Linked DNA regions of Homo sapiens: regions 1, 2 and 3 are each reported to be linked to region 4. The links are microRNA targets in miRTarBase. Many come from high-throughput screens and were not tested one by one. Region 4 holds a microRNA gene; each other region holds the end of a gene's coding sequence.

Region 1 (4,159 bases), not on the chromosome of region 4:
TCATAAACTTTGCAAATTGTGTAATACAATTAATAACAAACGCCTTTAATAAGTTAATAGGCAAGCTTTAAAATACATAAACATATGGCCGGGTGTGGTGGCTCACACCTGCAATCCCAGCACTTTGGGAGGCCAAAGTGGGTGGATCACTTGAGGTCAGGAGTTCGAGACCAGCCTGGCCAACATGGTGAAAACCCCATCTCTATTAAAAATACAAAAATTAGCCTGACGTGGTGGTGCACGCCTGTAATCCCAGCTATTCGGGAGGCTGAGGCAGGAGAATCGCTTGAACATGGGAGGTGGAAGTTGCAGTGAGCTGAGATTGCACCACTGAACTCCAGCCTGGGTGACACGGTGAGACTCTTTCTCAAAAAACAAACAAACAAAAACATATGAAAGGTCCATATTATTTCTTTTTTTTTCTTTTTTTTTGAGATAGAGTTTCGCTCTTATTGCCCAGGCTGGAGTGCAATGGTGCTATCTCAGCTCATCGCAACCTCCTCCTCCCAGGTTCAAGTGATTCTCCTGCCTCAGCCTCCCAAGTAGCTGGGATTATAGGCATGTGCCACCACGCCTGGCAAATTTTGTATTTTTAGTAGGCTTCTGGCCTCTGTTGAGGGGCTGGTCTCGAACTCCTGACGTCAGGTGATCCTCCCGTCTTGGCCTCCCAAAGTGTTGGGATTACAGGCGTGAGCCACTGCGCCTGGCTGATACATATAATATAATTTCTAAGCAGCACTGGGACTGTCATCTTCCCAGAATGGATTTTTCAACTTAACAGAGGGGTTTTGAAAGTTTGTTCCTGGGTCAGGCGTGGTGGCTTATGCCTGTAATCCCGGGACTTTTGGAGGTTGAGGCAGGAAGATTGCCTGAGGTCAGGAGTTCGAGATCAGCTTGGGCAACATAGCAAGAACCCCCTCGTCTCTACCAAAAATACAGAAGTTAGCTGGGGATGGTGGCGCACCCCTGTGGTTCCAGCTACTAGGGAGGGAGCAGTAGGAGGATCGCTGGAGCCCAGGAGTCTGACTGCAGTAAGCTATGATCATGCCACTGCACTCTAGCCTGGGTGATATAGCGAGAGCTTGTCTCCAAAAAAAAAGTAAAAGGAGTTTGTTTTTCCTGTACTCTAGCGGGCCTCCCCTGCTGCTTTGCCAGGCTTTTTTCTGGGCTATGTGTTTTGGGGGTGACAGTGGCTGGCTGAGAGCCCCCACTGTCTCCTGGCTGGCCATGTATCCCCGGCCGAGCCTTCTCAGTGGTTCGTCCCTGTCCAGGCAATCCAGCACATCGAGGGCACCCAGGAAAAGCAGGAGCTGGAGGAGGAGCAGCGGCGAGCTGTCATCGTGAAGCCTGTCCGCAGCTGCCCGGAGGCCCCCACCTCTGACACCGCCTCCGACTCCGAGGCCTCAGACAGTGACGCCATGGACCAGAGCCGGGAGGAGCCGTCGGGGGACGGGGAGCTTCCCTGACTACCCCCCCAGCCCTCCTCTCCCTTCTGGGGGCTGGAGGGAGCCGGGGCAGCCACAGGGAGAGACATGGGCGAATGAGTGAGAAATTTTTACAAAATTACGATGTCATTTGGGTCTCTTTTATGACCTCTTTTTCAATACTGTAAATCGACCTTTGAACGAAGCCACTCAACCCGAGGTCCCGGGGCTGGGGTGTCGCAGAGCGTGTGGGAGCATCGGCACCCCAGGGCGGGGCCTCGGCCCCGGGGGCTGGAGGAAGCTGACACGGAGATGCCTGGCCTCTCTCTGCCAAAAAGCATTTTTTCCTTTAAATATGTTTTTTAAGAACAGGGAAAATTAAACAAAACCCCAGGTTATTTCTTCCCTGCCCAGAGCCAGCCTGGGATTGTCAGCCTTCAATCCCCTTTCCTTCCTCTTTTTGGGTTTTCTTCTTTCTCCTTTAAGCACTTACATGGTTGGGGGTAAGACTAGGCTGGGGCATTCTGGGGGCCCGGAGGTCTCCGTTGCTTCTTGGTTGGGGTTTGCTGCTGCTGTGCCCCCCTCCCCCTTCCCCATCTCGGCACTAGAATTCGCCACTCTCCCACCCCCCAGCCCCCACCTCTGCCTCCAGGTCTCATCTTCCACCCCAAAAATGTCTGTCTCTCTCTTTTTGTTTTGTTTGTTGTTGGTTTTTTATTTCTTTTTGGTTTGCTTTCTGTTTTTGTTTTGTTTTTCTTTTTTTTCTTTCTTTTTTTTTTTTTTTTACAATTTTGAGGTCTTCGTGTTCAAGGAGAAGCTATTATATTTTGTTAAGAAAGTGGGGAGAAAAAAACCAAGAGGCCACCGTGCCTTTGTAAAGAAACAAAATAAAGTTTGTACTTTGTTTTTTAGATTCTGAGTCTCCTGGGTGTGGGCTGGCCTGAAGACCAGGGCAGGGCTACCCCATCTAGAGTAGGGGGGCTCCTTGGGCCCCCCAAAGCGGACTGGGTGTGTGTGAGCACAGTTACTCCCTCAGCTTGTGTGTGGTGTTGCGATGAAAAATTGGGGTCCTCAGTTTCCCTGGGATGACCCTGGGTATTCTGTAAAGATGGAAGATGGTGTTGAGGCTGGGGAGTGGCTCTTTGGTGGGCGGCAAGGAGAGAAGGACAACCAAGCCACCGATTCCGAAAACCTGGGAAAGGACACAGGTGTTCAGGGGCCCTGCTTGGTCCCTACGCTTTGGTTAATCCCTAGGTTTTGCCACTTCCTGGGCTTCTGTAACTTCTCTGAGCCTCATCCTCTCCTCCCCTAGGAGGGGAACCCCACCCCCTCCAACCGCACCCCCCCAGCACCCCCCTGCCCCCCCGTGGTGTGGTGTTTAAGTGCTAAGATCCTGGAATTGGTCTGCCAGAGGTCAGTTCCCCCTCTGACAAACCGCTTCCTCTGAGCCTCAATTTCTTCTTCTAAAAATTGGCGATAATAACGGCACAAGGACATTGCATCCTATTGGGGATTGGCATGGTCCTTTATTTCGAGACAGAGTCTCTGTCTCCCAGTCTGGAGTGCAGTGGCGTGATCTCGGCTCACTGCATCCTCTATCTCCTGGGTTCAAGCAATCTTCTTGCCTCAGCCTCTCAAGTAGCTGGGACTACGGGAGTGCACCACCATGCCCAGCTAATTTTTGTATTTTTAGTAGAGACAGGGTTTCACCATGTTGACCAGGCTGGTCTTGAACTCCTGACCTCAAGTGATCCGCCTACCTCGGCCTCCCAAAGTTCTGGGATTAAAGGGATGAGCCACCATGCCTGGCTATTTTTAAATTTTTATTATTATTTTTTGGTGTGAGATGGGGTCCTGCTCTGTCGCCCAGGCTGCAGTGCAGTGTTTTGATCACAGTTCACTGCATCCTTGACCTCCTGGTCTCAAGTGATCCTCCCACCTCAGCCTCCCTAGTAGCTAGGACTACAGGCCTGTACCACAAAGCCTGGCTAATTTTTTTTTTTTTTTTTTTTTTTGAGATGGAGTCTTGCTGTGTCACCCAGGCTGGAATGCAATGGCACGATCTTGGCTCACTGGAACCTCTGCCTCACAGGTTCAAGCGATTCTCCTGCCTCAACCTCCTGAGTAGCTGGGACTACAGGCACCCACCATCATGCCCAGCTAATTTTTGTATTGTTAGTAGAGATGGGGTTTCACCATGTTGGCCAGGCTGGTCTTGAACTCCTGACCTCAGGTGATCCACCCACCTTGGCCTCCCAAAGTCCTGGGATTACAGGTGTGAGCCACCGTGCCTGGCCTGGGCCCGGCTGACTTTTTTATATTTTATTGTAGAGGCAGGGTTTTGCCATGTTGCCCAGGCTAGGCCATGGTCCTTTAAATCCTTCACTCTTCCGTGACCAGAGATCGATTTACACCGTGGTCCCCTCCTATGCCTCATGCTCACAGTGCTGGGTGCTTGGGGACTGAGGCCAGAGCAGAAGGCAGAATCACAGCTCACCCCACGATGACAGTGGACACGAACTCTTCACAGAAAGGCAGGAGTCTGCAGGTTTTCTTGGAATTTTACAGTGAACAATTCAATGGCACTTCATACATTCACAGTGTTACACAGCCTACCTGGTTCCAAAACATGTCCGTCACTCCAAAATGACTCCATGAAGCAGTCACTCCTTCCCCCTCCTCCCAGTCTCCAGCAACCACCTGCTTTCTGGTTTTAATATCTTTTTTAAAAAATT
Region 2 (3,953 bases), not on the chromosome of region 4:
TACGTCTATACAGCTGTCCATTCTTCACAGCAAGCCTAAGCATAAAAATGCACTTTTCTCGGGTCTTTGTTTCTGAAGGTTCCTATGTCATGTAAAACTGTGATTAAATAAATGTTAGGCTTTTCTCTTGTTAATGTTTTTTATTTATAGGGGTATCAGCCTTGACCCTTGCGATGGGTGAGGAAAAGATATTACTTTTTCTCCCCTACACCTCTATCTGCTTTTTCACCTTGTCTCCTGATAGTCCTGATTCCTCATTTCTTTCCTTTCCAGAATGTGGACATGCTTACTCGGGGATTGTGGCCCACCAGAAGCATTTACTTCCTACCAGCCCCCCAATTTCTCAGGCCTCAGAGGGGGCATCTTCAGATATCCACACCCCTGCCCAGATGCTCCTGTCCACCTTGCAGTCCACTCAGCGCCCCACCCTCCCAGTAGGATCACTGTCCTCGGACAAAGAGCTCACTCGTCCCAATGAAACCACCATTCACACTGCGGGCCACAGTCTGGCAGCTGGGCCTGAGGCTGGGGAGAACCAGAAGCAGCCGGAAAAAAATGCTGGTCCCACAGCCAGGACATCAGCCACAGTGCCAGTCCTGTGCCTCCTGGCCATCATCTTCATCCTCACCGCAGCCCTTTCCTATGTGCTGTGCAAGAGGAGGAGGGGGCAGTCACCGCAGTCCTCTCCAGGTAAACTGGACCTTTGAACCCTCCCCCCAGGGACCCAGAGCCTTCCTGACAGGCATCCTGACCCAGTGGCTCTCAGGTGGCTGGAAACCTGGCCTTGGCACACAAGTATCAAGGTTGTCTGCACAAGGTTGACTCTGGGCCCTCTGAGGACAGTCAGTCGGGGACTGTAGACAGTGGAGAGGGAAGGAAGCCACCACAGGCACAAGGACTAGTGCTTGGAGCAACATCATGGAGAAGATGGCTAGAGCAAGCTAGTGGGAGATGAAGCTGTGGAGGGAGGTGAGGGCCAGTCATTCAATTCACAAATTTTCACTGAGCACCTACTGTGGGCCAGGTCATAGTGTTGATGTCTTCATCTGATTCCCTAGTTCAAGCTATCATCCCCCAAACACTGTCCTTGATCTCAGAGCTCATCTCTCAATTTCTTTATCCTTTCCAGATCTGCCGGTTCATTATATACCTGTGGCACCTGACTCTAATACCTGAGCCAAGAATGGAAGCTTGTGAGGGTAAACTGTGGCTTATTCTTACAAAAAGTGTAATAAAGGAGACTGACCCCTGACAACATGGTAGGCACTGTATACATACTTGTTTTTGTTTTTTGTTTTTTAGAGACGGACTCTATGTTGCCCAGGCTGTTATGGAACTCCTGAGTCAAGTGATCCTCCCACCTTGGCCTCTGAAGGTGCGAGGATTATAGGCGTCACCTACCACATCCAGCCTACACGTATTTGTTAATATCTAACATAGGACTAACCAGCCACTGCCCTCTCTTAGGCCCCTCATTTAAAAACGGTTATACTATAAAATCTGCTTTTCACACTGGGTGATAATAACTTGGACAAATTCTATGTGTATTTTGTTTTGTTTTGCTTTGCTTTGTTTTGAGACGGAGTCTCGCTCTGTCATCCAGGCTGGAGTGCAGTGGCATGATCTCGGCTCACTGCAACCCCCATCTCCCAGGTTCAAGCGATTCTCCTGCCTCCTCCTGAGTAGCTGGGACTACAGGTGCTCACCACCACACCCGGCTAATTTTTTGTATTTTTAGTAGAGACGGGGTTTCACCATGTTGACCAGGCTGGTCTCGAACTCCTGACCTGGTGATCTGCCCACCCAGGCCTCCCAAAGTGCTGGGATTAAAGGTGTGAGCCACCATGCCTGGCCCTATGTGTGTTTTTTAACTACTAAAAATTATTTTTGTAATGATTGAGTCTTCTTTATGGAAACAACTGGCCTCAGCCCTTGCGCCCTTACTGTGATTCCTGGCTTCATTTTTTGCTGATGGTTCCCCCTCGTCCCAAATCTCTCTCCCAGTACACCAGTTGTTCCTCCCCCACCTCAGCCCTCTCCTGCATCCTCCTGTACCCGCAGCGAAGGCCTGGGCTTTCCCACCCTCCCTCCTTAGCAGGTGCCGTGCTGGGACACCATACGGGTTGGTTTCACCTCCTCAGTCCCTTGCCTACCCCAGTGAGAGTCTGATCTTGTTTTTATTGTTATTGCTTTTATTATTATTGCTTTTATTATCATTAAAACTCTAGTTCTTGTTTTGTCTCTCCGAATGAAGAAGTATGTATTTTCATTAGGCCAAGTCTGCGGGAAGGCTGGGGCAGCAGCATGAAGTGTTTGAGGAAGTGGGTTGGGTATGTCAGTTTCCATCTCCTCTCTGAGCCTGTCAGGGTGTTTCTGGAGTGCAGAGCAGGAGCACCCTGCTGGAGAGGCCAAAGCATAGCTGTGGGCAGGCTCGGGCTTCAGTTTTTCCATGCCCACCATTTGCCCCTTTGTCCTAGGGTACTTTGACCAGCAGGGTATGTTGGTGCTCATACTCCCCACCCTACATGTTCCCAGGTTCTGTCCCATGGCACAGGTGATGGTCTCCCTCTCAGCTCTGGGTCCATCTCCCTGGCCTAGTTCTCCAGCATCTGCTCACAGGTTCGAGCCACATCACTGAGCTTGAGGCGGGCATAGTCCACTCGCTTCAGAGCCATCTGACAGTCCTTCCTCGAAGAGTAGCTGGAGCCCTCATGGGGCTGCCCTGTGGCCACCTACAAGACAGACTATCAATGGAGCACCATCTCCTTTACCCTAACTCCAACCAGGCATCAGGTCTCGTCTCATTTCTTCCCTGAGTTTGAATTTGTTAGGCCATCTGGTAGCTGGGTAAATAAATCATTTAACTTATGTTAATCTTGTCTGTAAAATGGGGGTGACAATAACTACTTCCTAGAGTTGTTGAGGATTAGATAAAGTAATGCAGAGTATCTGGCACACCGTAAAAATTAGTAATGGTAGTGGTCCCTGCGACGATTTCAGAACCTTCTCAATCCTGTCCCTCTTCTCAGGATATAAGGATTTGGGACCTCGTGGCCTGGAGGTCAGGCCAAGTTTCCAGTGACAAAGTTCTGTAGTTCTAGCATTATTTACACATCTTCTGCTAGGCACATGTGATGTTACCCAGTGAGGTATGCAGGGCCACCTTTAATTCTTTCATTTTATTATTTATTATTTTTTGAGACAGAGTTTTTGCTCTGTTACCCAGGCTGGAGTGCAATGGCATGATCTCGGCTAAGTACAACAACCTCCGCCTCCTGGGTTCAAGCGATTCTCCTGCCTCAGCCTTCCAAGTAGCTGGGGTTACCGGTACTCACCACCAAGCCCGGCTTTTTTTTTTTTTGAGACAGTCTTGCTTTGTCACCCAGGCTGGAGTGCAGTGCTGCAATCTTGGCTCACTGCAACCTCCACCTCCTGGGTTCAAGCGATTCTCCTGCCTCACCCTTCCAAGTAGCTGGGATTACAGGTGCCCGCTACCAGCCCAGCTAATTTTTGTATTTTTAGTAGAGACGGAGTTTCACCATGTTGGCCAGGCTGGTCTCGAACTCCTGACCTCAGATGATCCACCCGCCTCAGCCTCCCAAAGTGCTGGGATTACAGGAGTGAGCCACCGAGCCTGGCCTAATTTTTATATTTTTAGTAGAGACGAGGTTTCACCGTGTTGGCCAGGCTGGTCTCGAACTCTGTCAAGCCACTGCGCCCGGCCCATTCTTTCCTTTTAGAGGAAGAAACCCGCTCTGGATGGCCGGCTGGGGAGGTCTGGTCCTGCCCAGTTAATGCTCCACCCTGGATCACCCAAGCCTGAGGCTTTGACCCAGAGCTGGGGTTCGCTCGCAGAACCCCCCAGACACACCGACCTGGGTGAGGTAGCGGATCTGAGCTGACAGCTCCGCCTCCACGTGTTGCACTGAAGCGGTGAAGGCCGCCGCCTGCCG
Region 3 (4,176 bases), not on the chromosome of region 4:
CCTGGAGTTGCCCTGGTGTCTGCAGCTCCTTCTTTAAACTTTGAGCTACCCCATACACCTCAGAAATTCCCTTTTGTACTTATGCTAATATACATCAGGTGCCTGTAACTCACAACCAAAATAATTTGTATTATTTTATGATTATGCCCATGGAGTGTGAGGACTGTGTGAAGGGGAGCCTTCTCCACTGGGGACACTGAAGTCATGGAGTAGCCCCAGGAGGCCTGCTTCCTGCTGTCTCCCCAGCCTACCTGCCCTCTCCAGGAGGGAGCTCCCCAACATCTGCCTCCAAGCTTCCCTGATCTTGATCCCTTCATTCACTCTGCCCATTTAGCTCTGTCCTAGCTTTCAAAGCCCAGTTCAAGTTCTACCTCTCTCAAGTTCTACCATGGGACCTAAACTGGGCTGAAGGTACATGAAGGTGCTACAGCAGAAACACCTCTGTGGAAATACTTGTAAGGAATACCTACTTACTACATAGGGTTGTTATGAGGGTTTTAAAAGCTAAATGAATTCAAGTGTCTGACTCCTCCTAGTCAATTTCATTTCTCAAAATCCTTATGGCATTCATCACCTAACCATTCATTCTTACACCCAATTGCGTTCCATATTTTATTTGGAAGTTTGGGCTGGGTGGTGTCTAAAGTCCTATCCACGTAAATTTCTGAATCTGTTGTCTTCCCATATGTCACATCTCCTTAAGGAAGTCTCCACCTTCTCCCTCAAGAAGAGATGAGGAAGGGCTTGAGCAACAGGGCTCAGCACAGGTTTGCAGAGCATCAACATAACTGCATATGGCAGCAAATGTGTTCCATGATCCTCCATTCAAGAACCCAAAGGCTTTTATTTTTATTTTTTCAAAATAGAAGTACCTTTTTTCCTTTTATTATACAAGTAACATACTTACGGTCAAGTCAGTCAAATATTACATAAATTTATCATGCGGAAAGGGAAAATCACCTATAACCCAATTCCTCAGAGATAACTGCTGTCAGAATATTATTTCAGAGTTCTGCTATACACAAATACGCATGTTTCAATGGGTACTTCCAGGGACCGCATGGAGATCCCTTAAGTTGAAACTGGACAAACAGAACAGTGGATGGTTCTAGCTGAGATCTGGGATAGTTTCTGAATTCAGAAGTGTTCACCAGCCACATTGCATGTATTAGCTGGAACCATATATGAAACTACGATACTCAGCTGTTTCTAACCTACAAACACAGTGATTACATATGGCTCAACTTAATGTATATGAAGCCTAGAATGTCAGAACTGATAGAGCCTTAGAGACTTTCAAGTCTATTTCATTATGTTGAAGAGGAAAACGGATGAGGGAGAGAAGTGTCCAGCCTAAGATCATACATCACCTTAAGTGGTAGAATCAGGGCTGCTTCTCTTCCTACTGGACCATGTACCTGTCTCTCATACTCTGCTTCTTTTAATATAATAATAATTTAGGTGCGATATCAGTCTTTTTTGTTTTTGTTTTTGTTTTTTTTTGAGACAGAGCCTTGCTCTGTCACCCAGGCTGGAGTGCAGTGGCGTGATCTTGGCTTACTGCAACCTCCACCTCCCGGGTTCAAACAATTCTCCTGCCTCAGCCTCCCAAGTAGCTGGGAATACGGGCACCCGCCACCAGGTCTGGCTAATTTTTGTATTTTTTTAGTAGATGGGGTTTCACCATGTTGGCCAGGCTGGTCTCGAACTCCTGACCTCAGGTGATCCGCCCACCTTGGCAGTATCAGTCTTTTAGAAGCAGATTCAACATGACATCAGAAAACTTCTCTCAGATAGTCGTGGTGGCTTACACTTGTAATCCCAGCACTTTGGGAGACCAAAATGGGCAGATAACTTGAGGACAGGAGTTCGAGACCAGCCTGGGCAACATGTGAAACCCTGTCTCTACTTAAATATATATATATATATATATATATAAATTAACTGGGTGTGGTGACAGGAACCTGTAATCCCAGCTACTCAGGTGGCTGAGGCAGGATAATTGCTTGAACCCGGGAGGTGGGGGTTGCAGTGAGCCAAGATTGGGTTGCTGCACCACAGCCTGGGTGACATAGGGAGACTGTCTCAAAAAAAAAAAAAGAAAAGAAAAGAAAAGAAGTTTCTCACATCACTCAGTCAAAACTGAAAAGACTGCTTGCTTTGGAGGTAGTTTAGTCCTGTTGCCTGGCAATGTGGCTGGGAAGTGCCCTGTGACTTGGTTCAAGAAGCATATGAACCATAGAGCTAACGAGGCCTAACATTCAGGGTCCTGACTCACATGAGCTCCTTCTTAAGGTCCTAGCAGGGGCCCTAGCAACATATTAATGTGGCAGTATATTTTCATAATGTTTGCAAAAGTAAGATATTTTAGAATTCTTTTTCTTAAAGAGAGTCCCCAGAATTGTATGACCTTCAGGCCTGGATCCACTCCTGTGTAGCACAGAGTTTTGAAAAGCACTAGGCAAGGAGACCAGAGTTCCTGGGTTCCAATCATGGCACTATGCAGGCCCAAATGGGCAGCACAGCACTTGCCCTGCTTTCTTCACGGGAGCGGGGGCAGGGTGGTGGTGGTAAATCATATCTGTGATATGGGATAGTCATCACTGCTTCTCATGGCTGAAGATAACACATAAAAAATGTGTCCCCAGAGCATCTTCCTGTCTCATTTCCCTCTGCTACAACTTCTTCTCCGTTCTCCAATCCCCAGGCCCCTAATACTCCAGCCACTGAACCAGTTATTGGTCATTATCTGTTGCTACTTTTATATGTTTGTTCATGGGCTCCCACTGTTTATAAAGTCTATCTTTTCCTGGGAAAAAATCCTTATGCACAAGGCTTCGGTCTACCAGCCCCTCTTCTCCCACCCCAGTGACGACCTCCCTTAACCGTGTTTCTTGTTGATCTTACAGATAGGGACACTGAGACCTGATGCAGTCCACAGCAGAGTTCTGGAGGCCCCAGACGCAATCCCCAGGTGTCTTGGTCTTCCACCGTCCCAGCCCTCTCGTGTTAGATCATAGACACACGGTTCTTGATATACACATGATAGGGGTCACTACGCTTGTCCACTTTGCGGGAGCGGGTGTATCCCAGGATGAGGCTGCCCACAGTTACAGCAAATAGAAACATGACAAAGAGAATGTACATGTAGGAGTTGTCATCACGGCCAGGTAGGCTGGCCCGCCTCTCTTCAGTCTGGTTGTCTGGCCCCAGCCCTGGCCCTGGCCGGCAGAGCAAATTGCTGTGAAGAGTGGCATTTAGAGCCTTCAGCACGGCATGCAGGCTCTCATACCAGGTCTCCGTTCCATTGGTAGTCTCCATAGCAACAGGGATTGAGGTGGGGGAAGACTCGGTAGAAGCTCTGGTGGCAAAAGAAAAGAGAGAGGGGATGGCTCTGTCACCTGCAGCTCAAATGACCTCCTCCCTTCAGATCCCAGGTAAAATCTTAGCATCATGGCTGATATGGTTTGGCTGTGTCCCCACCCAAATCTCATCTGGAATCATAGCTCCCATAATCCCCATGTGTCATGGGAGGGACCCAGTAGGAGGTAACTGAATCATGGGGGTGGGTTTTTCCCATGCTGTTCTCATGATAGTGAATAAGTCTCACGAGATCTGATGGTTTAGAAAGGGCAGTTCCCCTGCACCTGCTCTCTTGCCTGCCACTGTTTAAGATGTGCCTTTGCTCCTCCTTTGCCTTCTGCCGTGATTGTGAGGCCTACCCAGCCGTGTGGAACTGTGAGTCCATTAAACTTCTTTTTCTTTATAAACTACCCAGGCTCAGGTATTTCTTCATGGCAGTATGAAAATGGACTAATACAATAGCTTATTCTAGCTGCTTGATTACATGTTTGTCTTCTCCATTAGACCATACACTAAACAATAAGGGCAGGGCCTATATTTGTTTTACTCACTGCTATATGCAATCACTTATGACAGCATTCAATAAGTAAGTACTCAATAAATAATTGTACAACAAAGCCTTCCCTGACCATCAGAACCCATATTAATCTCTCCTTTCTTTGGTTTCTATAAATCACTGAACTTTAGATTAGAAGGAACTTAAGGATTATTTAATATAACTCTTGCCATTTTATACACAGGGAAACTGAGGCCTTGAGAGAATAAGTGGCTTGTCCATGATCACAGAATATTGGAAGTAGAGCCAAGACAGAA
Region 4 (3,000 bases):
GCAGATTGGGAGCTCTTGCTCAGACCAAAAGTCTGTGACACACAGGAAGCCAGGAGCTTCCTGGCTTTGGGGATCGTGTTAAGAAAACTGCACCAAGTTCTTAGACAAAAGGTACCAGGATGATGATAAATTGTAGGAAAATTCGGGAAACAATTTTTTTAATGTCAGGAGAAGAAATTGGGAAGGTTTTCAGGTAGTGGAATGTTCAAGGTGACCAGAAATCAGGTATAAATCACAGGCCTAAGTTATACCAAGAGAACAAGGATGCGGACATCAAGACCTCAAAAACATGGGTTTTTTTGTTTGTTTGTTTGTTTGTTTTTTACAGTAAAACACCCAGAGAGACCTCAGGCTGCATCTCTCTCTCCTTTCACCCATCTGTGCCCTGCCCCATTGCCTCCCCTTCCTCTTTCTTTCTTTCTTTCTTTTTTTTAGACAAAGTCTCACTCTGTCACCCAGGCTACAGTGCAGTGGTGCAATCTCAGCTCACTGTAACCTCCACCTCCACAGTTCAAGAGATTCTCCTGCCTCAGCCTCCTGAGTAGCTGGGACTACAGGTGCATGCCACAAGGCCCAACTAATTTTTGTACTTTTAGTAGACACAGGGTTTCACCATGTTGGCCAGGCTGGTCTCAAACTCCTGACCTCAGGTGATCTGCCTGCCTCGGCCTCCTAAAGTGCTGGGATTATAGGCATGAGCCACTGTGCCCAGCCCCCTCTTCCATTTTCTCAGTTTCTGCTTCTATTTATTGAGCACCTACTAGGTACCAGGCATCGTGCTATGTGCTCAGAGGCCAAAATAAGTGAGGCCTGGGACTGGCCTTTGGAGAGCATGGGCGTACAGGTGAAAGGGGTGACAGAGTGCAGTCTGGACTCCAGGGCAGGGCCCCAGGAGAGGTGCAGACAGCATTGGCATCCAGGCAAGGGTTGTGGCAGGGGTCCTGCCATCTCTTCTCCAGCCCTGGGGGTGGTCTCTAGCCAAGGCTCTGGGGTCTCACCCTTGGCTGGTCTCTGCTCCGCAGGCCTTGTCCATCAAAACCTCATCCCTAGCAGAGGCTGAGAACATGGCTGACCTCATAGACGGCTACTGCCGGCTGCAGGGTGAGCACCAAGGCTCTCTCATCATCCATCCTAGGAAAGGTGGGTTCCATTTAAAGGTAAAGTGGCTGGACCACGGGTGGCAGCACACCCGAGTCCCCAGAGGCGGAGTGGCAGAAGCTAAGCCACTGATGGATAAGTGAATGAGGATTCTTCCCCCACAGCCCAGCGGGAAGCTTCCAGTGGGCCCATCTTAGGCTTTAAGCCCTGGCCGGTCCACCTACCCACAGCCCTGCTAATCAAGGTCCACATAGAGGCAGCTTCTGGAGGAGAGGCGTTTTAGCCCCAGCAAGCTCAAAGCCATTGCTAGTAGAAGGCTGGTCCCGCCTGTGTGTGTCTCCATCTTGGGTCAGATTCAGGAAGCAGGGGTCACAGCTGGAGCACGTGAAATCTGGCCTGAGGCAGCCTCCAAGGAGGATTCCACTTCTGGCCCAAGGCCTCACTAGCTCCCAGGCTAGGAGAGAATGGAATTAGGGGCTGGGATGGGAGGAGAGTCCCTTGTAGGAATAGTGAGGAGGTCAGTCACCCATCCAGGTCCCTGTGTCCCCAGCTCCAACCTCCTCCTTCCTCCTCTCTTCCTAGATGGTGAGAAGCGGAACAGCCTGCCCCAGATCCCCATGCTGTGAGTACAATGGGGTGCAGAGGACAGGGCCCTGAGCTCAGCCTGTGCTGCTGAGAGGAATAAGAATAAACTGGGAGTCCCCACCTCCATAGTTTCTGGCTTTCAGGCCCAGGAGAACCCTGAAAAAAGATGATCTTTCCCTCCCAATAAATACCTGCAGGAATATTCCTATGCCTTCATGCCACCTGGTGTTATCCTGGGGGGTTGCTGCTGTCCCCCAACTCCAGCCCCCAGCAGCCTGGGCTGTGCTCCCAGGTCATTGCTAATTTGGACAGACTACTTCTCCACAGGGGGCAGGAGGAGAGGGCGGGCCGAGGCTGCCCAGGGGAACATTACCGGCCTCTGAGCTCACCTGGCTTCTGCTCTCTCACCTCCTACAGAAACCTGGAGGCCCGGCGGTCCCACCTCTCAGAGAGCTGCAGCATAGGTGAGCTGCCCGCTGCATCCTCCACCTGCTCCAGTTGCCTCCCGTCTGCTTGCTCCCCACTGCTTGCTCTCGTGACATTGCCGAGGGTTTCCTCCAAGTGACAGAAAAATGATCCTCTCCCATAACTTCTCAGTGATGGCTTTAAAATATCGTGAATTATGGCTGGGTGCAGTGGCTCATGCCTGTAATCCCAGCACTTTGGGAGGCCAAAGTGGATGGATCATGAGGTCAAGAAATCAAGACCATCCTGACCAACATGGTGACACCCCATTTCTACTAAAAATACAAAAATTGGATGGGCATGGTGGCATGTGCCTGTAGTCCCAGCTACTTGGGAGGCTGAGGCAGGAAAATAGCTTGAACCTGGAAGGCGGAGGTTGCAGTGAGCTGAGATGGCACCACTGCACTCCAGCCTGTCAACCCAGCAAGACTCCATCTCAAAAAAAAAAAATCATGAGTAGTAATCGCTAGTGTGTATTGAGTACTTAGTACATGGCTTAAGCAGCTTGGGCTGCCATAACAAAATACTATAGACTGGGTGGCTTAAAACCAGATACTTTATTGCTCACAGTTCTAGAGGCTGGAAGTCCAAGATCAAGGTGCTGGCTGAGTCTGCATCTGGTGAGGGCTTTCATCCTCATTTGCAGATAGCTATCCTTTCACTGTGGGCTCACGTGATGAACAGAGAGTTCTGGCCTCTCTTCTTCTGTGTACATGAGCACAGATCCCATTATGGGGGCTCCACGCTCAGGACTGCACCACCTCCCAAAGGCCCCACCTCCTAATCCCATCGCATTGGGAATTAGGGCTTCAACAAAGGAATTTGGGAGGTACACAAACATCCAGTCCTTAA

What was found. Region 4 holds the annotated microRNA hsa-miR-6842-5p (UGGGGGUGGUCUCUAGCCAAGG, at 963-984, shown strand). A microRNA usually pairs through its seed, bases 2 to 8, with sites in the 3' UTR of a target mRNA and lowers its output. Matches are read on the target gene's strand: a 7mer-m8 pairs with bases 2 to 8, a 7mer-A1 pairs with bases 2 to 7 and ends in A, and an 8mer does both.
Region 1: the mRNA of TFAP4 is a reported target of hsa-miR-6842-5p. Seed matches in the 3' UTR shown: 7mer-m8 at 2,048-2,054.
Region 2: the mRNA of CXCL16 is a reported target of hsa-miR-6842-5p. Seed matches in the 3' UTR shown: 7mer-A1 at 1,639-1,645.
Region 3: the mRNA of KCNE3 is a reported target of hsa-miR-6842-5p. Seed matches in the 3' UTR shown: 7mer-A1 at 2,021-2,027.

What each region holds. Positions count from the first base shown.
Region 1 is chr16:4,255,362-4,259,520 of GRCh38, reverse strand. It overlaps TFAP4 (transcription factor AP-4), which reads left to right. Exons shown (of 7, transcript NM_003223.3): 7 at 1,272-2,335. The coding sequence ends at 1,466. Among named protein-coding and RNA genes, the nearest start is that of LINC01569, 3.7 kb to the right of the region's middle.
Region 2 is chr17:4,731,829-4,735,781 of GRCh38, reverse strand. CXCL16 (C-X-C motif chemokine ligand 16) reads left to right here. Exons shown (of 6, transcript NM_001386809.1): 4 at 274-690; 5 at 1,130-1,199; 6 at 1,303-2,249. The coding sequence ends at 1,176. MED11 (mediator complex subunit 11) reads right to left here. Exons shown (of 3, transcript NM_001001683.4): 2 at 3,876-3,953; 3 at 2,175-2,732. The coding sequence ends at 2,595. Among named protein-coding and RNA genes, the nearest start is that of MED11, 2.4 kb to the right of the region's middle. RefSeq lists an enhancer at 3,699-3,953.
Region 3 is chr11:74,454,243-74,458,418 of GRCh38, forward strand. KCNE3 (potassium voltage-gated channel subfamily E regulatory subunit 3) reads right to left here. Exons shown (of 3, transcript NM_005472.5): 3 at 599-3,361. The coding sequence starts at 3,321. The coding sequence ends at 3,010. Among named protein-coding and RNA genes, the nearest start is that of KCNE3, 11 kb to the right of the region's middle.
Region 4 is chr8:27,432,413-27,435,412 of GRCh38, forward strand. It overlaps MIR6842 (microRNA 6842), which reads left to right and starts at 958; the gene lies at 958-1,022. It overlaps PTK2B (protein tyrosine kinase 2 beta), which reads left to right. Exons shown (of 31, transcript NM_173176.3): 11 at 1,023-1,140; 12 at 1,681-1,720; 13 at 2,101-2,147.